Linked DNA regions of Homo sapiens: region 1 is linked to region 2. The links come from fine-mapping of genetic effects on gene expression. A gene starts in region 2. The other region holds a variant in brackets. All regions are shown on one strand. Distances are between the middles of the regions. Region 1 overlaps LINC02357 (long intergenic non-protein coding RNA 2357). Region 2 holds the start of RBPJ (recombination signal binding protein for immunoglobulin kappa J region).

Region 1 (11,381 bases), 240 kb before region 2:
GAGAAATGTTAAAGGCAGGAGTACAAAGGAGGTGAAGAGAATGGTCACTGTAGGTTGAGGTGAAACAGGAAGTCGATCCTTGGAGATGAATCCTCAGAGGGTCTTGAAAAAAAAAGTTGGCAAATATTAAGGGGTAGAAGGATGTTTCAAGAGAGAGGAAGCCGTGAGCGAAGGCATGGAGGCCTATGCAGAAGATGTGAAGGCCATGCACATTATTTGCTGATTGAAATAGAAAGGTCAAGAGTCTGGGTTCTACCATTTGGCAACCGTCCTAATGATAATTGATTCAAGTAAGAACACTAATGGATGCTAAGGAGTGGGCAAGTTTGAGAAATAACAGACTATTTAGATAGTCTCAAAGTATCCGCCCTCCAGATTCTTAATGACAAAGCAAAACTAATAACCCTCCAATGATAAAACCTAGCAGATACCACCTTAACTAACTGATCAGTTAGTGTTACAAGAGATGAGAAAAATCCACAGCATTTGCCTCCTGATGTGATGCACTGGGGAAAACACAACAACACAACATCATATTTGTGTTATTCCTGCAAAAAAAAAATAGCATAACCTAAATCTACTCATGAGGAAACATCACGCAAATGTCACTTGAAAAACATTCTACAAAATAGCTGGTCCGTATTCTTCAAAAATGTCAATATCATGAAAGACAAAGATTGAGGAAGTGTTGCAGATTAAAGGAGACTGCAGACACGTGACAACTGAATGCAATGCATGATGTGGGATTATCTTTTGCTTTAAAGCAAAATGCTGTTCTTTAAAGGACAGTATTGGGACAATTGGTGAAATCTGAATAAGGCCTGTTTACTAGATAAAGGTATTGTATCAATGTTAATTTCCTGAATTTTGTCATTGTACATTCAGAGAATGTTCTTATTTTTAGGAAATACACACTGAAATATGTAAAGGGACATTGTGTCTCAAACAGTTCAGAAAAAATATAATACTAGTGAGGATGCAGATGTGGAGATAGATCGAGATACAGGATAAAGCAAAGTGATAAAATGTTAACATTGGGGGAATCTGGGTGAAAAGTATGTAGGCCTATGAGAATTATTTTTATTATTCATGTAACTTTTCTGTGAGTCTAAAATTGTATCAAAGTTTAAAGTTAGGCTGGGTGTGGTGGCTTATGCCTATAATCCCAGCACTTTGGGAGGCTGAGGCAGGCAGATCATTTGAGGTCAGGAGTTCGAGACCAGCCTGGTCACCATGGTGAAACCCCATCTACTAAAAATACAAAAATTAGCCAGGCATGGTGGCATGTGTCTGTAATCTCAGCTACTTGGGAGGCTGAGGCACGAGAATCGCTTGAACTTGGGAGACAGAGGTTGCAGTGAGCCGAGATCGTGCCACTGCACTGCAGCCTGTCTCTAATAATAATAATAATAATAATAATAGTAAGTTAAAGGAAGAGAAGAGAGCCATTAGGCTCTGGTCCCTTCTTTGCTCTGTATAAATGTGTAATTTTGGCTAAGTCTCTGCACCCCTGGGTCTCCTCCTGCCCTTCCAGTTGGAGGCCTCGTGGCTTGCCTTTCTTGTTCTGCCTCCTCCCAGCTAATTTCCAGATTGACACCTTGTCTCCTCTTCCTGAGTCAATGTTTCTTTCGCACTGCGCCCTGATAGCTGATCTCTTTGGCTTAATGCCCCTTGAGATCTGGGCCACCATGGAGGTTTTTGTCCAGCATCCAGGACATTTTTTGCCGACTTGGGCTTGTACTCCAAACACATCAAGGTAATTCACATTTATTGAAGTCCTACTCTGTGCCAGCACTGCTCTTGATCTTTTCAATAACCTAAAAGGTAACTTCTCCAATGTGTGTGGTCTACTCTCACTATTATCTCCACACAAATTTCAGTGGCTCCAAAGCCCTACTTCCTTGATCAGAGAAAGTTCAATATTTAGTGGATCATACCTTCATATGAGAAAACTCAGGACCACCTAAACACGGATCCTACTTGGTTGTCCACTTATAGCTATGGATCACAGAGCTAGGATTTTTGGCTTCAAGTCCTCAATGTTCTATTGAAGGGGTCACTCAGGGTTCCAGCTGTCTCCATTTCTTGGGTACCATCAGAGCTGAACCTCAAAGCTAGATATCTTGTCACCTGTGAAATAAAGAGGAAAATGCAGGCCTGGTGTGGTGGCTCATGCCTATAATCCCAGCACTTTGGGAGGCCAAAGAGGGAAGATCGCATGAGGTCAGGAGTTCGAGAACAGCCTGGCCAACATGGTGAAACCCCGTCTCTACTAAATATACAAAAATTAGCCAGGTGTGGTGGCAGACGCCTGTAATCCCAGCTACTTGGGAGGCTGAGGCAGGAAAACCAATTGGACCCTGGTGGCTGAGGCTTCAGTGAGCCAAGATGATGCCATTGAGCTCCAGCCTGGGTGACAGAGTGAGACCCTGTCTCAAAAAAAAAAAAAAAAGAGGAAAGTGCTCTTTTCATGTTACAATCAGTTGCAGTCGATGTGAGGGGGTCCCACAACCAGTTCCAGAATTCTAGTGCAATGGCATTTATGGCAAACCTGTTTAAATTCTGGGTAAGGCTGAGATCCAGTACCAGCCACATTATAGTACCAGGGCCATTCTGCCTCCTGAACACTCAGGCCTGGCTTTGGAGCCCACCTCCCCACACAGGACCATTTCCTCAGTGTGAGTTCTTTCCCAACCCTTGTTGACTCTGTCTGCAAACTAAATTTTTAATATATCTGAGACAGAGATTGTGGACTTAAGTCAATATGTAAAGGGTATTGCCTATTGCCATGGGCCACCAGGAAACCCTGGGCCAGATCCTGCCTCATCAAGAGACCCTGTTGACACTGGAGGCTCAGAGAAGTTACCCATTTGAGGCTGGGGGTCCCGCAAGTCATAAGTGGTGGGGTCAAGATTTGAACTCATATCTCTGGGGCTCTTTCCAGTCCACTGTCTTGTTTTCTCCTCAAAGTGCAGCAAAGACAACAATTAGGTAAATGGAGGCCTTCCTACTTGAGGCTTTGTTAGCAAATTGAGGTTTTTCTGGCCTGGCCTGGGATTCCGGAAGTACAGGGGACAATTGTTTATGCTGCTGTTGGTGATTTCACATTTAGATGATGCAGACTGCTTGTTTTTCTTTCTTCATAGTACCTTTTCCCTCCCAAGCACTTAATCACCCAAAAGACGGAAACATCAAGGGTAGCCCATTTTTATACAATTCTGGAAAATGCTTGGGGCAGGTGGGAGGAAAGGGTGAAACGACTGGCAATGTGGTTTTATAGAAAGAGCGTGGGCATCAGAATCAGACAGTTCTGGGTTCAAATCTGGGTTTGTCGCTTCCTATTTGAGTAAACATTTAGAAGTTAAAGGTCTTCATCTGTAAAACAGAGACAATACCGTCTACCTCTCAGCGTTACATGAGAAACCTTATTTAAAATCATCAGTCTTGAAGAGGGCTCAATGACACTTAGTGTCCCTCACTTTGGCTGATCCTTTTTGGATTATATGAGAATTTTAGCTATCTATATTTTGCTATTCATTCCTCTTACAGACAACCCTCAAGTCAACTCAGAAGCAGGTCTTGTTTCCATGGAGATGTATTTAAGGTAAACAAATGTGAAAAGGGGAAGCACAGACGCCCATCCCCTACACCCACTCACGGCCAATGCACCATCTCAGCAGAAATGTTTCCAAAGAAATGTTTCACAAAGCTTTCGGGGAAGGCCAAGGGCTCTTTCACAGTCTTGACATGCTTTTTCATTGTACGGCTCTTGAAATGAACAATAATTCGAAACAGATAATAATGAACTTCACACAGCAATGGATCAAAAGTGGAATTACTGAGCTCAGCATTGTCTAGTATAATTAGGCTGACATGCTGCTGAATCCAAATGGATGGCTTTCCGACCCCCACTTTTGCATGTGCACATTTATTTGCAGAAGAACTTTTAATGGGCAGAATATTACAAGATTTCTGGACCCCATGTGGTTTCAGTTCTAATCCAAACAGCTTACTTTCTTCTGAAACTCTGATTTTCCTTCCTCGCTTTCTTCTTTTTTTTTCTTTTGGCATCACTATTTTGGAAATTTCAAAGGAGAATTGGTTCCTTGAATGTGCATGGAAATATAAGCACATAAATCACATGCTGAATTTACTTAACAAGGAGCAATAATCCCACTGTCACTTCCCACTGAACAATGCCTTTTTAGGAAAAAATGCTGCAAATCCTTTAGAAGTCCAAATCCGATGCATCCAATCAACTCACTTTTTTAAATTCCACAAAATAATTTCTCTGTTTTAAATAGCTTATTAAACACAACAGCAATCAGATAATAGATATTTCTTAATTAGACCTAGCTTTAGATCTCTCTTCAATCATGGCAGACAGCAGACTAGCTAGTCACTTTATAGGGCCATAAACATTCATTTCAAAGTCTAATAATAGAGTGGTTTCCTCTATTCTCCCTCTAACACAAGGGCCAATTTTTGTCGAGTGAAAATCAGCCCATGTCTTACACAAGACATCTGTCCTCAAGATGTGACACCTAAAATGATAAAGCAGAAATATATCACCAAAGCCAACAACTTATAAAATTATGGCTAACAAGACTAGACAATCTTGTTGTTGCATCAACCACAAAAAAGAAAGAGAAAGGGCATTTAATATAGCCTTTATTAGTCACTTTATTAGTCACTGGTACCTGTCTTGAATTTTCCAAAGGCTCTAACAGAAGAATTAACTTGGCCCATTTACAGAACCACAGGCAGAAGATTCTGCACTATCAGGGATATCCATAGTGGTAGCAAGAACGATTAGCAGAATGTCTAGATGTCCCTAAGCAGACAGATTAATGCCGCCATCCTCAAGGTAGGCTCTGAGCTGCTAGCTAGAATGATATAAGGAGCTCTGGTTAATACAGAGAGAAGGTCCCAGCCAATAATTACTAGCATTGCTGGCCCCATCCATCCACATTAGATCCAGAGCGGAGAATGAAGTTGAACCTTAGAATCCTTCCCATTGTCATGCAAACAAATCTGTTAGATGAGATCTTAGAAGCATTGAGCAGCCCCCAAACCATAGAACTGCCAACCTTAGAGGTGGAAAATTGTAGAAGAGGAAACTGCAGCTGAAGGTGGTGAAATGACTCGCCTAAGGTCACAGAGAAACCACACCACCCTTCACCACTTGTGACTTGAATGGAAATAGTCTTTTTCTGACCAAAAAAAAAAAAAAGAGTGAGTACACTGTGTGTCAGCAAATGTTATGCCACATGCAGCTAGATCATTGCCCAACAAAGGAAATGTGGATTCACAGAACTAGCTTCCTACTTTGAACACTATTTTTCCTGTAAT[C/T]GGGTAAGGCTGGGGGCAAATTCTGGTCAAACCCTACAAAGATAAAGGGAAGCTCCATGTTTATAGATGCATGAACTGTAGGCCTAGTGAAGACTTCTCAATCATTTATCAATCCAGTATTGATTGGGGCATGCCCAACATGGGGCAGGTGTTTTGGAAAATATAGAAAAAGCGTAAGACATAGCCTTTTCCCTTAAGAAAAATTTAAACAATGTAGATGATTCTTAGAGATCAAGTGCAAAGATTAGATATTGATGATGATCCCAAAAGGCATTCAAAGATGGGAGAAATCGCAGGGTTTTTCACAAGTCAAGGATGGCTTGACCGACCTGAGATCTGTAAGGGACCTTGAAATCTGGATTGTGTAGAAGGATAGATGTAGGGGAGAGAAAACCTGGGGATATCTAAGCAGGAACAAAATTTCTGAGGTTGGAATTAATATGGCCCCAGAAAGTCTGGTCAAGACACCTAAGTGGCCTAGAAGTTGGTTTTAAGGGCACAGTGAAAAACAACACTGAACCCCGAGGGAAAGCCATAACAAGTGACTCACCAAATCATTTGGCCAAAGCAACACCAAACAAAGCTCAAGAGTCAGACCCATTTCCTTGAAGACTCGTCTCTCTGGTATGCTAAGAAAAATTAAATTTGCAATTTTCGGATGTACATATGCCAGAATTATCAAAATGTCGTGGATTCTCCTTCATATCATGACTAATATCCTCACCTCTGTACAAAATAGAAAGTTGGCCTGAGCTGTAAGAGGAAGGATTGCCCCTTTCTACCACCGCTCCCCAAGAGGAAATTGACTAAATAGTTTTGGAAGCCATTTCTAGACCCACAAGACCCTAATTCAAGAAAATAAGGTGTTGCCAAAGGTATTAAATATCCAAGAAACTATCCGAATACCTTTCTATGCTTTTGAACATTCCTTCTCTCTGACCTTAAACATGCGCTTAAATATATCAACTCCTTTCATCTGAAGGTGTGCCCGCACATGGCCTTTCTAATATTACCTCCAATTTGGGGGGGCAGAGGATAAACGGACAAGCTGAGGAATTATAGAGCCACCTAAATGGGAGGCTACTTCAAGGTTAAAACATGGCATGCCCAAACGCTTGCTGTACACAAAGGCTATTTATAATAGTTCTGATTTTAAACTTGGATTTATAATGAAGTTCAAGGCAGAAAGAGCAAAATTCCATACTGAAGAAAAATTACAGCTGGAAAAATCATTTGAAAAAAAAAAAGAAAAAAAAAAAAAACAAGAAAGCCTTCCAAGTGGTTACTCAATTTGGGAATTTAGAGAAGATGGCAGTTTGTGTCCAAGAAGAAACTACTTTTGGGGAAATGGAAGAGTGGAAAGTCTTGCCTTCAGTCTATTTTTGTAGCCCTGCCTCCAGCCATGCACATAACTGAGTCAAGGAAGGGCATTCCTCCCCACAGCTTCCAAAAAGGCGCATGTGAACAGAGGCACCTGGTCACACTATGGTGAGCCGAGTGCAAAAGCTTCAGGCAGCGAAGGGCAGTGGGAGGGGAGATATTAACTTGCCTCTGGCCTTTGGTGCCCAGCAAACCTGTGCCCTGCCTGCCTGTCCAGCCTGCCTGTGCCTCTCCAATCTGTGTTCCAGCATCTAGCTCCAGGTCACTCAGGAGTTGCGTGTGTTAGAGGGGGTGGGACAAGGTGATGTGATGGATAGAAACTCTCTTCCTCTTCCTCTCTTACTTTGTCTTAAGTGGGAAGGAGTTTTGGGCTTGCGGGGAATCGTTGCTCAGCATGCTTGCTTGTGCTCTGTAGGTTAAAGCGTTTAACTATAGGGTGGCAGGTGGTATCTATCTATGTACCCACTTCTTACCTCTCTCTAGCAGATGAGCCTCCAGAGCACAGCACTCATTTACTCTGAGCAAAGACTCAACTCCAGAATCCTTCCCAATCCAGCAGTCCAGGCTGTCATTACTAATCAGAATGGGCAAGTGGTTTGCAACTCATTTGCCAAGGTAGAGAAAAGAAGAGCAGGAAGAAAGAGGAAAGTAACATTTTCTGAGCACCAATCATATGCCAAATAGTGGCATGTCAAGCGGGTGGGGAAGTCAGCCTCGATGGGGAGGGGACAGGTTATCACTGGCATTGCATAGTGAATATAAAATGACTTCGATCATCTTTACACTGGGCTCAATACTCCATGGACAATGCACCCTCATTGCCACTCCCACTGTCCCCTCCGCCTTCCTGACTGCACCACCAGGACCAAGAACAGCTGGTGGCCCTTTCACAGGGCTTGCCTTTCCCAACAGCCTGGTGGTGTGGCAAGGACTTGGAACCATCCCTCTTATACTGTTAAATCCCCTGTTGAGGTCAGACTGTGCCTCAGTTTCCTCACTTGTAAAGTGAAGATAACAAAGCTGTACCTTTCCTAGAGGGCTGTAGTGAGGGCTAGTGCTTCTGCAATTGTGAGAGGGCACAAAACCTGGCATATAGGAAGAACTGTTAAATGTCAATTTTCCCTTAAGTTACCAGCTGAACTGGGCTGCCCCTACCTGAGTTTTAAGATCATTACAATAATAATAATAACCAATTGTAATATACCACATAGGATTGTCTGGTTTAGAAAAACAGACAGGATACTCAGTCAAATTTGAATTTCAGATAAGAAATGAGTAATTTTTAGTATGAGTATTTCCCAAACATTGCATGGAACATAGTTATACTAAAAATTTATTTATTTTTAATCTGAAATTCAAGTTTAACTGAGTGTCCTATATTTTATCTGGCAACACTAACATCAAATCTTAAGGTGTGTGGAATAAACAAAGGCATAACTCTTTGGAAATAAAAATGTCACACTGAAAGAAATGTTTCTCCAAATTGATTTTCAAACTTTTTCCAGCCACATTCCACAGCAAGAAATACATTTTGCATCACAGTGCAATACACACAAATGTGTATTAACTGAAATCAACATTTTACAAAACCTTTTTTGTGTACAGTATATTCTGATATTTTGTCTCCTTCATTCTACTTTATCTTATTTCTTTTTAAAAAAATTCTTTGTCCAGTATCACTTAACTGATTTCATGACCCCCTTAATTGAGGGGTCAACAAATTATGGCCCAGGGCTAAATCTAACTAACCACCTCTTTTTGTAAGGCTTGTAAGCTAAAAATGTTTTTTACATTTTTGGCCAGGCGCGGTGGCTCACACTTGCAATCCCAGCACTTTGGGAGGCGAAGGTGGGCAGATTGCATTAAAACCAGGAGTTTGAGACCAGCCTGGCCAACATGGCGAAACCTTGTCTCTAGTAAAAAGAGAAAAATTAGCTGGGCATGGTGGCACATGCCTATAGTCCCAGCTACTCTGCAGGCTGAGGCAGGAGTTGCTTGAACCTAGGAGGCAGAGGTTGCAGTGAATTGAGATCACACCACTGCACTCCATACAACTTTTTGAGACTCTGTCTCAAAAAATAAAATAAAAAAGATAAGATAAAAGTTAAAAAGATAAGATTAAAAATTTTCTACATTTTTAAGTGGTTGGAAGAAATCAAAAGGAGAATGATATCTCATGACTGGTGAAAATTATATGAAATTCACATTTTAGTATTCATAAATAGTTTAATTACAGGACAGACACGCTCACTTGTTTACCCATTGTCTTTGATCATTTTCGCACTACAGTGGCAGAGTTGAGCAGTTGCGAGTTGAGAGTTGCGTGTTGAGTACAGCCCACAAAACCTAAAATATTTACAATTTGTGCCCTTACTGAAAAAAAATTGCCTACCCCTACCCTAAAGGGTTGCAATTTGCAGTTTGAAACGCTCTGTTCTAAATGGTTTTGCCCCAAAAGGATTCATTTCTATTCATGTGAGTGAGCAGTTTTTTTAACAATGTCAAGTTAACCTTACTCTTCTTATTTCCTCATAGGATAAAGACAGAGGAACAAATACCAGACCAGCAAACTTACCTGAATCCAGCTGCCCTCAGAGTATGGCTGAGGCTTGGTCAAAGCCCAGAACTTAGCAAGGGTTAGAGGACATCATGGGACCATATTCCCAGTCACTCCAGGTATCCACTACTCACAGGGAAGGGAGGGATTATGAAGAACACAGAACAAATGTCAAGTTCTTGACTTTGAATCATTTAGGCTCTTGACTCTTATTACAGAGATTGGGTGGGTCCTCCATAGCCAAGGTTTGTGATAGAAAAGTGTGATCAAATCTAAAGGCTAAGCCCCACGTAAGCACGACATAAAAGTTTATACTACAAACAAGAGAATGGAAAGAGAGGAAAGGATGGTTGCTCTAGCTAGGGAAAGAGGAGAAGGGAAGAAGAAGATGCTGACATAGCCCTGAGGGGTCCTGCACTTTGCCTGCTCCCTCGTCTTGTGATTTTCTGAAGTGGGGTAGCGGGTGATAAATCATCAAGATAGGTTTAGTAATGCCAAGACCTGAGAATGTGTGCCCTGATCTACGGGAGACGCCTGGAGTTAGGGGAGAACAGCACAGATACATACCGAGATCATCAAGGGCCCTGAGGGCCAAATGCAGCATGCCACTTCCTTTTGTAAGTGAAGTTTTATTGGAACACAGCCATGCCCGTTCATTTATCTATTGCCTGTGGCAGCGTTTGTGCTACAGTAACAGAGTGGAGTACTCATCTAAAATACGTGCTGTCTGGCCCTTTACAGGGCATAGTTTGCCATCCCCTGCGTTGTATGCTGGCCATAGTGGAGAAGAGAGCGCAACAGAGCAAAGCAGTGGGGAGGCCCCAGGAAAGCCCCCGATCTGTCACAGCCAGGCCCATGTAAGAGAGCATCCTAAAGTTTCCCTTGCTCCTGCCTCCAAAATGGGCACAAAATGGCCAAAAGAGGGCCGCAGACCTGAGCAGAGCTTGAGGTTGGGACAAGAAGATACAGTGGAGATGGAGGGCTTTCTAACAATGGAGGACTTGGCAGCCTCCAAGTATGGCCCCTGGGTGCCACTACGCATAGGTGCTGATGGCCAAAGACCAGGTCTGCTTCAGGCTAAGGATGCCTGTGGACCATACCACCCCATCCCTCTCTCAGTCCCCCAGAACCCCGTTTTCTACACCTACACCATCCTATATTTCCAGGATCTTACCAGCAACCCCAAGAAGAAGGGAAGGGCATGAAATTTTGAATTGAGTGACTGAAACCGGCATGACTGCATAAACACTGAAGTGAGTGATTTTTACCAGGAAGACACTATATATTAAGTTTCCTGCCACTAGAAGAATGTAGACTTAAACTAGAAATTAGGTTATAGAAAAATGAAGAGGTTTACATTCTACATAGCCGATAGGAAGAACAGGAAACTGACTTTGTTGCTGCAGGAAATTGGAACTTCATTCACAGCAATTCTGAGACCACAGAAGTTGAAGTCCTTATGGTTCATGACTCAATGACTCCATACCTACTCATTTTTCTACCGACTTCTTTCTAGAATAAGACAGTTTAAAGCAGTCCAAATCTTCCGGAGATTTTTCCCATTCTACCTGCAACTCCATAAAAGGAATCCTGTACAAGTCTAAATTTTCACCAGTAGGTGGTGCTAACACAAACACTACACTGTACTTATCTGAGGATGAATTAGCCAGACACTAATTAAAGCTCTCTGCATTAGCACTTTTCTCTACAGCGCCTTCCCTCTGGTCTAATTGAACTTTGTTATTAAGCAGTCCCTGAGTGGTTTCACCTCAGGGCTAACACTCTCTCTCTGGAGTGGTATAATGGAAAGAATTCCAGCATTAGGAAACATGGGGTATGGATTTTGGCTGTCTTACTAATTAGATGAATTCGCCAAGTCACTTAATCTCTCTGAGTCTTAGGATCTTCATTTTTAAAATAAGTGAGTTGGGTTTGTGGGATGCTTGTTTTCCAGGTTTGAGAAACAATTCCACAACCGCTCTTCTCCCATCAAGCTAATACATTTTGAGGAAAAACTCAAGATTTCAAGAAATAGGCTCTCGGACACAATTCTGTGGGGGAGGTAAGAAGTCTGTGGCACAGACTTTCTGTC
Region 2 (11,381 bases):
AAATTTACCAGGGCAGGATTTTTTCCCCACCCTAATAAGCCTGAGGGTACTGCAGGGGACCAGGGCATATTTGAGTCCTTATTTCAACCACATAAGACAGACACTCCCAGAGCAGCCGTTTATAGACCTCCCCCCAGGAATGCAATTCTTTTCCCAGAGTATTGATTATCAATATTCCTTGCTAGGAAAAAAATTTAGTAATATCTCTCCTACTTGCAAGTCCATTTATAGGCTCTCTGCAAGAAGAAAAATATGGCTTTTTTTGCCCCACCCCGCAGGCAGTCAGACCTTATGGTTGTCTTCCCTTGTTCCCTAAAATCGTTGTTATTCCGTTCTTTTTCAAGGTGCACTGATTTCATATTGTTCAAACACACGTTTTACAATCAATTTGTACAACAGTGGTCCTGAGGTGACGTACATCCTCAGCTTATGAAGATAACAGGATTAAGAGATTAAAGTAAGACAGGCATAAGAAATTATAAGAGTATTATTAGGGAAGTGATAAATGTCCATGAAATCTTCACAATTTATCTTCCTCTGCAGTGGCTCCAACCAGTCTCTCCGTTCAGGGTCCCTGACTTCCCGCAACATATATATATATATATATTCATATATATACACATTCATATATACATATACACATATATACATTCATATATACATATTCATATATATACATTCATATATACATATTCATATATACATTCATATATACATTCATATATATACATTCATATATACATTCATATATATACATTCATATATACATTCATATATACATTCATATACATTCATATATACATTCATATATACATTCATATATACATATTCATATATATATTCATATATATTCATATATATTCATATATATATTCATATATATATTCATGTATATATTCATATATATACACATTCATATATATACATTCATATATATAATATATATATACACATATTGATATATATATACACATATTGATATATATATACACATATTGATATATATATATATACACATATATATATATACACATATTGTGTATATATATATATACACACACACACATATCCGGCTAGTGGTGTTTTTGTTGTTTTTTTCCTGAAGTTCTAAAATGGAGAGTAAAGGAAACTCTTAAGTGCAGCCTCATCTACTGGTCTAACCCAGACGACTTTTTTTTTTTTTTTTTTTTTTTTTTTGCAAAAAACCAACACAGGTGGTTGCTCCATATGCCTTTTTCTCCTCCCTAGGCAGGCTAGTACTCACTGCTAGTCTAGTCCTAATATTGTTTTGAACCCTAGGAGGCTTAGTCTTCAGAATCATTTTTACTCTGCCCTAAAGTGGAAGACACCCCATTCATTCTACAAATATAATACAGCAGGCATTGTTCCAGCAGCTAAGGCTTGAATAATGAACAAACTAGACAAAAGTCCTTGCCCTTATTAATATTACATTATAATGGAAGGAGGCAGATAGTAAACACAACACACAAGTATGATAAATGTTATGTTAGTTAATGATAGGTGCCATGGACAAAATCAAGCAGAAAGGGGGATAAGGAGTATGGGAGTCCCTCTTGGGAAGGGTGTCAGGGAAGGCCTCCCTGAGGAGGTGACATCAGGCAAAGACAAGAAAGGAGTGAGGGAATGAGCTATAAGGTATATGAGGGAAGAGCATTCCAGGTAGTGGAAAAAGCAAAGGCTTGGAGCTGAAAGTGTGCTTGGGGCATCCCAGGAACAGTAAGGAAGGCAACTGGTGAGAGCCCACAGAGTGAGAGGTAGAGGAGGAGGTGAAGGCAGATAGATCAGGGGGGGTTTGGCAGTAGGCAAGATTGTCTAAGTCCTCATAGTGAAATGGGAAAGTCATGGAGGAGTTCTAGAGGGCCACTGAGAATGCTCTATTAGCACAGACTGCGGGAAGACAAGAACGGAAGAAGGGAGGACCAGTTAGGGAACTTCCTTAAACCAGGTGGGAAATAAGATGGGTTAGACTAGGCTAGTAGCTAAAGAGGTGTGACAGTATTTGGAATGTGAGTATATTCTGAAGGTGGAGCCAATAGGATTTTCCGTCCAATTGTATCTTGGGTGTGAGAAAGGAGGCAAGGACTCCAAGGTTCTTGACATAAGTGGAAGAATGGAGTTGTCCTTTCCTGAGATGGGGGAGGGCTGCAGATGGAGCATGTTTTAGGGCAAAAAGGGGGAGCTGTTATTCCCTTTGTGGTTACCATGGCTTCCCAAGGTCGCTGGGGCTCTCAGAAGGCCATGATTCCAAATTAGATCAGTGGTCTGGACTAGGCCATGACTGAAATACCTTCTTGGGATGACAGCTCCAAGGAATATGTGCCCCAAGGGCTTTGTCCTCCTCCTGAGCTATCCTGTTCCAAGCCAGACTTGCACTGAGATATTGCACCAAATGGTTTTAAGTCTGTTTTTTTGTGTATATAATCAATAGGCAAACACAAACACACACACACGCACACACACACACACACACACCCCTAAAACCTTGAAAACAACTTAAAAACCAGGGTTTCCTATTAGAGAACTCACTGTCCTCCAAATATCAAAATTCAATTCAACTCTACATTTGCGGGGCTGTGACGTGAGCAGGAAGACACTGGTTCCTAGATAATGCCAGGCTAAGGCTGGTATAGAAACCACATCAGGGCCAATCTGAAACGTGGCTGATTGAAGAATTTACGTAATCAGGAACTCATTGGATGAATGATCCAAAAGGAAGGGCTGCATTTAAAACAGTAGTCACTATAGCACCTGCCGCAGCCATACGTAAAATGGAATATTGCAATAAAAATACGGAAAGGTGACGGAAAGCAAAAAAGCCATATTAGTGGGAGGAAAAAACAGAAACTGATTTGTAAGATTACTTCAAAAGGCTAAGAAGAGACTGACAAGAAATTTTAAAAATCGTGTCCTTAAACGGGAGCAAGAATCTATACAAGGCAACAAGGCGAGAGCGCAGAGCTGTTTATTTATTTATTTATTTATTTTTCTACCCAGCTCACAGGGCCAGCGGGTAGATTAGAAAGAAAACAACCAATTGCTGCCAGGCGCGGTGGCTCACACGTGTAATCCCAGCACTTTGGGAGGCCGAGGCGGGCGGATCACGAGGTCAGGAGATCGAGACCATCCTGACTAACATGGTAAAACTCCGTCTACTAAAAAATAGAAAAAATTAGCCGGGCGTGGTGGCGGGCGCCTGTAGTTCCAGCTACTCAGGAGGCTGCGGCAGGAGAATGGCGTGAATCCAGGAGGCGGAGCTTGCAGTGAGCCGAGATCGCGCCACTGCACTCTAGCCTAGGCGACAGAGCAAGACTCCGTCTCAAAAAAAAAAAAAAAAAAAAAAAAAGAAACCAATTGCTAAAGTAGAGTAGCTAAGGAATCAGAACTTGTTTCAAAGTAAGCGAAGTAGTGGCCAGACTAGGTGACTCAAGGCATGACTCAAACCCGACTCTGGAGGCTGTCTGTCAGCTCCCGGAGGCGGGGGGCGCGGTGTCTAACACGTTTTAGGAAAGTACCAGGCTTGTGGAGGGCGACAGGAAACCTCCCCGGGAGATCGGCCTGGGGCTCCTCCTGCCCTAGAGCCTGACCTCTCACTCTCCGTACCGGCAGCGACTTCCAACCTCCTGGCTTCCCCTTCCTCCGTTCGAGGCTCCCCACCCCTCGTCTTCCATCCAGCGTCACAGGGCGTGTGCGTGTTGTGTGCGAGACGCGGGTCTCCTCCCCCGCCGCCCTCCGCCCCGTGCTCCCAGCCACGCGCCTTCCCGCCCCGCCTCCGCGGCAAGCCGCTCCCTTCCCACCCCGCCCGCGCCCGCCGCCCGCCGCCCGCCTCCCGGGCACGCGCTGCACGAACGGCGCCCGGAGCTGGTCTAGGCAAACACCTGTCCTGCCTTGGCTCCGCGAGATTTGGGGCGAAAGCTTAGGCAACAGGGGCACGTTCTCGCGAGGTTTAGGAAATTTCCCACGGCCGTGTTGTGTCTGAGCCGAGTAGTGGAAGGCGGTGGGAAGGAGGTGTAGCGTGAGACTGGACTGCCCGCATTGGGTACATGCGCAGTGCCGCTCGCGCGGGCCGCGCCAATCCTGCAGCGCCTTCAACAGGTTTCGGGCGGCGAATTCCAGTTCTCCGGGTTTTGGGGCTCCCTGCGGGAGGCAGTGCTGGATCTGGGAATCTCTAGGAAAGGAAAGAGCAAAGGAGGGGAAAGATGGGGGGCTGCAGGTAGGAGGAGGGGGCGGGATTCGGGCCCTTCACCCTGCTGTTCCATGCCCGGTGGGGCCAGGTTTGCCCGGGGGCTTCCGGGATCAGGCCGCCTGAAGCGCGATTCGGGCAGCCGGCAGCGTCCTCGGCTGTGCCAGGCCCTCGGGTGGCCCGGTTCCCTGTGCAGTAGTGGTCTCAACACACACCTGGGCTCACACACGGTGGTGGCTGCGATGGGGTCTTAGAGAGGCCATGCAGCACGCGAGCGGCAAGAGCTTTGATCGGGTCCTCTGGGCAGACTCGGAGGTGGGAGAATGTGGCTCTCAATTCCAAGGCAGTTTTCCCTTCTGGAGAGAACTACTCCGCGCTCTGGCGTGTGTCTGCGAGGTGGCCATTAGGGGTGTCTTTGCTAGAGGCCTTGGCTTGACCTCATTTCACACCCAAGGAGAACGCTAAGGCGAGAGAGCTCAACTGCAAAAGTTTTCCGCTTGAGGAGCTCTGGAAGGGCCTCCTCATTAGCATGGGGGGGTGTAATGAATGAAGACAGTCCCCGACGTGTCACTTGCCCGAACCCCAGACATCTCTGGCGCTCCTGCACCAAACGCCGAGATTAGCATAAAGGAGGCGCCCAGGGAACGTTTGAATGAATGAAAATAGCTGGGAACCCAGAGTGAGCGGGAAGCCGCTTGGAAAACACCCATTGAGGAGGTGTTTCATCTAGGCCTGTGAAACGCAGCCCATTTTCCCAGGACCCCTCCTCCCTTCTCCTCGGCCCCGCCTCCTGACCCCTCCATTCCTCGTCCCCGTAGTAATCCCCTCCGGTTTTCCTCAGTCTCCACGTACGTCCCTCAAAGCGCGTCCTAAAACCCGGATAACCGGAGCGCTCCCCATGGACCACACGGAGGGCTCGCCCGCGGAGGAGCCGCCTGCGCATGCTCCATCGCCTGGGTAGGTTTCCAGGGAAGGCAGCGAGCAGGATCCCCTACTCTGCGGGCGGCGCGAGGCGTCTGGCTCTTCGCGGCGGCGGCGAGGGGAAAGGGAGCGCGGGGGCTGGGTGGAATCGAGGAGTGAGGAAAAAGGGAAGGGGCGGGGGAGAGGGACCAGGGAAGGCGTCGGGGGGAATCTCGCGAGGGTTGGAGTTTTGGCGAGAGTTTGTGGAAGATGGCGCCTGTTGTGACAGGGTAAGTCTGAGGGAATCGGAGCGCCGGGAACCGGGAAAGTTGCGGGCGTCTGGCAGCTCACGGCGGGCAGCGGGTTCGGGGGCCGCGGCGCGCTTGGCGTTCGGGGGCCCGCGGGGGCGGCGTCGCGTGCGCCGAGCGCGGCGGCGGCGGCGTGTGGCCGTGCGCTGCCGCTCTGCGCTGCCGTGGCTCAGGCTCCAGCGCGTGAGGGCGGGCGGCGGCGGCGGCGGCGAGGCCGGCGGGTGCGGGCGTGAGTGCGGCAGGGCGCGCGGGGCCCTCGGGCGCCGTGCCTCCCGCGCGCCTCCAGCGGGCTCTGCCTGGGGGCCCCGTGCATCTTTGTTCCTCGCGGCCGTTGTCGCCGCTTCGCCCCGCTAGTGCCCCCGGCCCCGGGCGCTTTGTCTTTCACCGCTACCCGCTGCGACTCTCTACCCCCGGCCCTTTGTTTCGCCGCCTTGGGCGCTTTGTCCGACCCGTGGCGTCCCGCATCCCCTCTCCATCTCCTCCCCTCCGCTGTCCTTCCTCCCGTGCCCCTTTGTTGTGCCACACTCTTGTCGTTAGCCCAGTGACCTGCCACAGCCCGGGCACCAGATTTCTGCCTTAATTGTTCTTCCATTGTCTTTCTCCTGTGGGTCCCCTCTCACCTTTCTGTATGGTCCTGGATCACCCCCCGAGGCTTTGTCTCCCCCATCCACGGGCTTATTCTCTCGGCACCCCCTTCCTCTCCCGTCATCGGTTGATTTATCCACAACCCACGGTGTACGTCTGCTGAACTGTCTCAGCCCCGGGGACTCCATCTGCTGCTTCTAAGTGCACACAAGACTCTACGGTTTGTTGTTTTGTGGGTCTGAAAGATGCATGGGATACTTAGTTTTCTCCTCCGCACCTCTTTTTCTCGGGATTTCTTGTACCCTCCCGCCCCCCTATCGCCACCCCTTTCTCTCGGGATTAAAGCGTCTCCAATTTTCATCGCCGTCTTTTTAGTGCCGTGGGTTGTTTTGCTTGGAAACAGTAGCCTTGGAAAAAGATCTGGTCTCTTGGTGGTTCTTGCGCCCCCCGGCCCCCGCCCCCCTCCTGGTTCCTGACGGCGTAGGCCAAGGGCAGCTGTCTGTCGAAGCTTTGCAATCTAGGCTGCCTGAGGATGATTGGAGGGTATCGTAGGACGGTTAGAAGGAGGCTCAAGATGTATATATGTGTTTTTCTGTTAGTGTTTGAGAATAGTTTCAGATAGCCACAATGGATATTCATTTGGCGTGTGAGTAGGAGTTGAGTGAATTTCCATGTTAAAAACTTGTGAGTGTTGGGGCGGAGAATTTCAGCATTTTCTAGAAATCTGGATTTAGAATTTATCAGTAACTTCTGCCTCATAAGGAAAAGGAGAGGCATTCCGCTTGGGAATTTTATATAAATGTTTTATTTTTTCTTAATCATTAGATAGTTTACAGTTATGTGCTTTTTGCTGCCCTGTAGATGCGTGACAACCCTTCTGTCCCATCATTGGGGTTGAAATGAGGACAGCACCGAAGAGTGCAGTTTCTGGTCGATGAATACTGCTTCTAAGATCTTTGTGGAAGATATTAATCAAATGCAGTTAAAAAGTATACGTATAATATGTATATTATATATATATATACACACACACACGTAATAGCCTGTAGTGAGATTATTTTAAAGACACTTCCTAGTGTTAAAGAACCCTTGAAGTGTTTCGAGTTCTTATTGTTTTGGTAATGCTAAAAGCTTGGGGTTGTGTGAATGGGGGTGGGGGGTGTGGTGTGATGTATTCTAATGACTTGAGTTATTCTGGGTGCTAGGAATAAGAGTTATTATATTTACCAGGATTACTATGCTGAAGGTATTCTTCAAGAGTTTGTTTTTTTTCTACTGGTTGATCTCTACTTTTAGAAGGTATGTTACCCATAAAATCATTTGGAGTGTCATTTCATTTACAAACTGAAGTTCTACAATAGTGAAGTGTTGTTGATAGGGGACATACGAGATCTACTCTAACGAGTATTGGAGCATTGGAAAATACTTTTTTTTCTGGCTGTGATTAGAATTAGTAGTTTGAGTTTTAATTAATGGAAAACCATGTTTTCATGATTGATACATAAGTTTTTTTGTGAAAATCTGCAGTCTGGGTCGCTTGAGTGGGTTTTACCAATAATCTTATGTCTCCCTTACTTGTTCTTGTACATAATCATTGTTTTGAAGGTAAAATCTTGAGCTCACTGGTTCTCTGACTGGGAGCAAAGTGTAAATACTGTGTAGTAATGGAAGGTATTTTGCTCTGACTTGTACCTGTAAGAATGATTACACAGACATGATAAAAGCGCTTTTACCATTTGAGTTGCGTTTTTCTTTCTAAATCGTGTAATACTTTTACTTACATGATTGGTGAAATAAAACTGCTTTTAATTAAATTATAACAGCAGCATATTTCGAAATCTGGATGCGTTGTGGCTGGAGAACTTTCATTCTGAGTATTAACTGTTAAAGCTTTAAATTTTATTATCCATGCATATTGCTGATGGATCTGTGAGTATATTTTCAGAAAACAGGAGACTTGCAATATTTTCAAATCTGTACTAATACACACTTGTAGGCATTAGATTTTAAGCAGTTAGGTTTGTTAAAAAGTTATCTGTTGTCCTATACCAACAGATTTCTATCAATGTTTTTTTTAAGTGGGTAAGATCAAAATTGGTTTGGTTGACAGGCCATTCTTGCCAGATGTAATTCATTAAATAACCTTTGGCACCCTTGATGGGTAAGGCATTAGGAAAAAATTGTTTCGTTTGAAAGTTATTATACATCTCATTCTTCTGTTCATTTTTAGAAATAAGACCCAGGACTTGGCTTTAAAGCATTATTTTGCATTTTGCTTCCTCCTAATACTAAATTTCATGTTATCTCAACTAGGGGCAGTATTTTCTCATGGATTGACTAAAAGTTGTTATTTTTGGCATCTGGCTTTGTGATTATTTCCAAGTTACTCTACTTCCCCTGGGCCAGTTTCCTAACTATGTAGTAAAATGGGAATTATAATAACTTGCCACATCTGCACAGGATTGCTGTGCCTTAAGATTCGCAGAGAGCATCCTTGGATGAAAACTGTGGGGAAGGTCTAGGAATTGTTACTGAAATAAGCTAATGTGAAGTAGGTCATATTTTATAGGAAGTCAAATAGGAGGTTTTTAAGTTCTTGGCAAGACACAGTAGCGATAGTGGGATTTTTTAAAATCCCAAATATGTATTATAATATGGGTAATAAAACAGATACCTTTATTCCTGCCCCCCATAAACTTATAGGGAAAGGGACAAATAAAACAAATTACAGGGTGATGTGTCGTGTGTGAGTGTGTGTGTGTGTGTGTGTGTGTGGTGTAAGAGATTGAAGTTCTGTCAAACTCAAATGTAATAACATTATAAAATTATGGGATGCCTTTCCTCTTTTGTTTTCTGCATGTAGCAATATTCTATTTATTTATTTTATTTTATTTTTTGAGACAGGGTCTCACTCTGTGGCCAGGCTGGAGTTCAGTGGCACAATCTTAGCTCACTGCAACCTCCACCTCCTGGGTTCAAGCGATCCTCGTGCCTTAGCCTCCTGAGTAGCTGGGATTACCAGCGTACACCATCATACCTGGCTAATTTTGTATTTTTAGTAGACATGGGGTTTCGCCATGTTGGCCAGGCTGATCTCAAACTCCTGACCTCAAGGGATCTGCCCACCTTGGCCTCCCAAAGTACTGGGATTACAGGGGTGAGCCACCATGCCTGGCCTGCATGTAGTAATATTTAACAAATGGTAGTACAACATGCTTTCACTGGACTCTAAGCCAAGTCTGTTAATAGCAGTGATTAATTTTAAATATGCCTTATATTTTTTAGTGCTTTGTTATTTGCTCTTAAGAATAAATTCTAATAACCATGACTATAATTTCAGATTTGACTCTTGGCCTTAGAAAAGTGTTTTGCATTTGAGGAGCACTCTGTAGATACGTATTGACTGAATGAAACCTGTTGCTTCTCTGTTCTTGGTAGATGATACCATATTCCGTTTGGTTCCCAAAGCCACGATTCCTAATTCCTCTCTCACCAGCCTTTACATTTAATTACTGAGAACTGATCATTTTTCCTTCTAAAAAATCTCTTGAATTTGTTTCCCTTATCCTCACTGCCGAAGTTCATGCTGTCATTTCTCACCTGGTTTACTATGACGTACTGACAGCCTCTTTCTGCTTCTAGAGTCACCACCTTTATCCAGCTTCTACATGTAGCAGAGCAGTCTTTCTAAAGAGCAAATCTGATCACTGCTTAATCTAAAAACCTTTCAATGGCTCCCCCTAGCAGCGTTCATTAAGAGAGGCAACAGAGTGGAGGGTTATGAGCTCACATTTAGTGTTTAATCTGAACTGGGTTCCAATTCTGTCTCTGGCACTTAAAACCCCTGCCAGTTAAAACCCCTGTAACATTGACAAGTTAATCTCTTTATCAATTGCAAGATAATTATTCCTAACTCAGAAAGTTGTTGTGAAGATTAAATGAGATAATGTATGAAAGCATTTAGCAGAATTCCTGGCATGTAGCAAGTGCTCAAAAGATGTTAGCTACTGTGGCGCATAGGATCCTCCATAACTATTTCATCTGTCTCTTCTCCAGCTGAGTTGTTTGCCATTTTCTCTCCATAATCAGTGCTTCAGTCATATTAAAGTATTTTGACATCTCTGCATGAGCCCAGCAGTTTAATGCGTTCTTGTGTATGAAAAGTAATGATCCTTAGTAGGTTATTTCTCAAGACTAAGGGAATATTCTAACCAGATCTACCAGACTACAGTTGGTGCCTGGCTGTATAAATACTGTATATTTAATACAGTATTAAATGCTGTATATAATTCTCTTGGAAGCATGATACTAAGTTGTAATTATCACACCCAAATATTGTCACTTGGTGGCAGGTATCATTTATATTCTTATACTTAGAAGATTGTCTATCACATGATAGAGACTCAGCAAAAAGAATTTTTGAACATAGGACTCAGTGCTTTGAAATCTTGGTGCAACATGGTTCATGTGGCACAATTTTAAAATTGTGTGTGTGCTTGTGTGTATACAGTATATGTGTGTCTAATTCATATATATGTATAATTTATATATAGGTATTTGACTTTGGTTCTGTAAGGAGTAATTGCTGAAGTACCCAGAGGAATTGATATTTTCAGCCACAAGCAATCTCATAGCCCCTGAGAACATTATAGTAAGGCTCTTAGGCAAAAGTTTTTTTTTTTGATTATTAGAAAATACTACATTATATTTGTATAAAACTGACAAGTTTAAATTTCACTTTTGTTTTTTATATGATTGGCTGTCAGTGTTTATCAAAAGATTCCATTATTTTTAACTGTTTTCAGTACTAGATGGCTAGGGATGTATGTTAGATTAAACCGTAGAACACTGTAGACTGCTTTTTGGGGAATCCATGCCATAGAACCAAATAATAAGTTGATAATTTACATGGAGACTCAGGTCTCATGGACATATTACTGACAGATAATTTCTTTAAGCTTCAGGTTCTACCTCTATAAAATAGGGGATGATAATTATATTTTATCTGTCAGGCACATTGTGACTGTCAAATAAGGTAAATTTTGTGAAATAAGGTCAAATGAAACAGTGTATGTGTAAGTGACTTGTAAACAGTAAAGCGTTCTATACAAATATTTTAATTACTATAAGAATCAGTTTCCTCTGGTAACCTTTCATCTTGAGCAGGGCTCAAGATGGACTTTTTATACTGCAAGCTGTGGTTTTGTGGGTCATGTTTTAGGAAGGCAGCAATGTATTTGGTGCAGAGGACCGCAACCCTTGAAATATGTGCTTTGGCATTTTAAGCAGACATATTTGTTAAATTACTGCTTGACCACGAATGTTGTCATTGAGTCACCCCCAGCTTTTTGGGGTCTATTTCTTACTGCTCTCTTCTCTGCTTGGGC

What was found. PIP is the estimated chance that this variant, and not a neighbour inherited with it, causes the effect.
Region 1: its variant is fine-mapped to the expression of RBPJ in whole blood (TOPMed, PIP 0.92).

Annotation. Positions count from the first base shown.
Region 1 is chr4:26,071,183-26,082,563 of GRCh38, forward strand. It overlaps LINC02357 (long intergenic non-protein coding RNA 2357), which reads left to right. Exons shown (of 3, transcript XR_925506.3): 1 at 1-838; 2 at 9,268-9,408. Among named protein-coding and RNA genes, the nearest start is that of LINC02357, 6.1 kb to the left of the region's middle. RefSeq lists enhancers at 3,750-3,829, 10,018-10,197. The variant C/T (reference allele first, on the strand shown) is at 5,353.
Region 2 is chr4:26,315,658-26,327,038 of GRCh38, forward strand. It overlaps RBPJ (recombination signal binding protein for immunoglobulin kappa J region), which reads left to right and starts at 5,357. Exons shown (of 11, transcript NM_015874.6): 1 at 5,357-5,391. The coding sequence starts at 5,372. RefSeq lists enhancers at 3,391-3,440, 4,531-4,580, 5,813-6,734 and silencers at 3,661-3,930, 5,401-5,530, 5,601-5,700.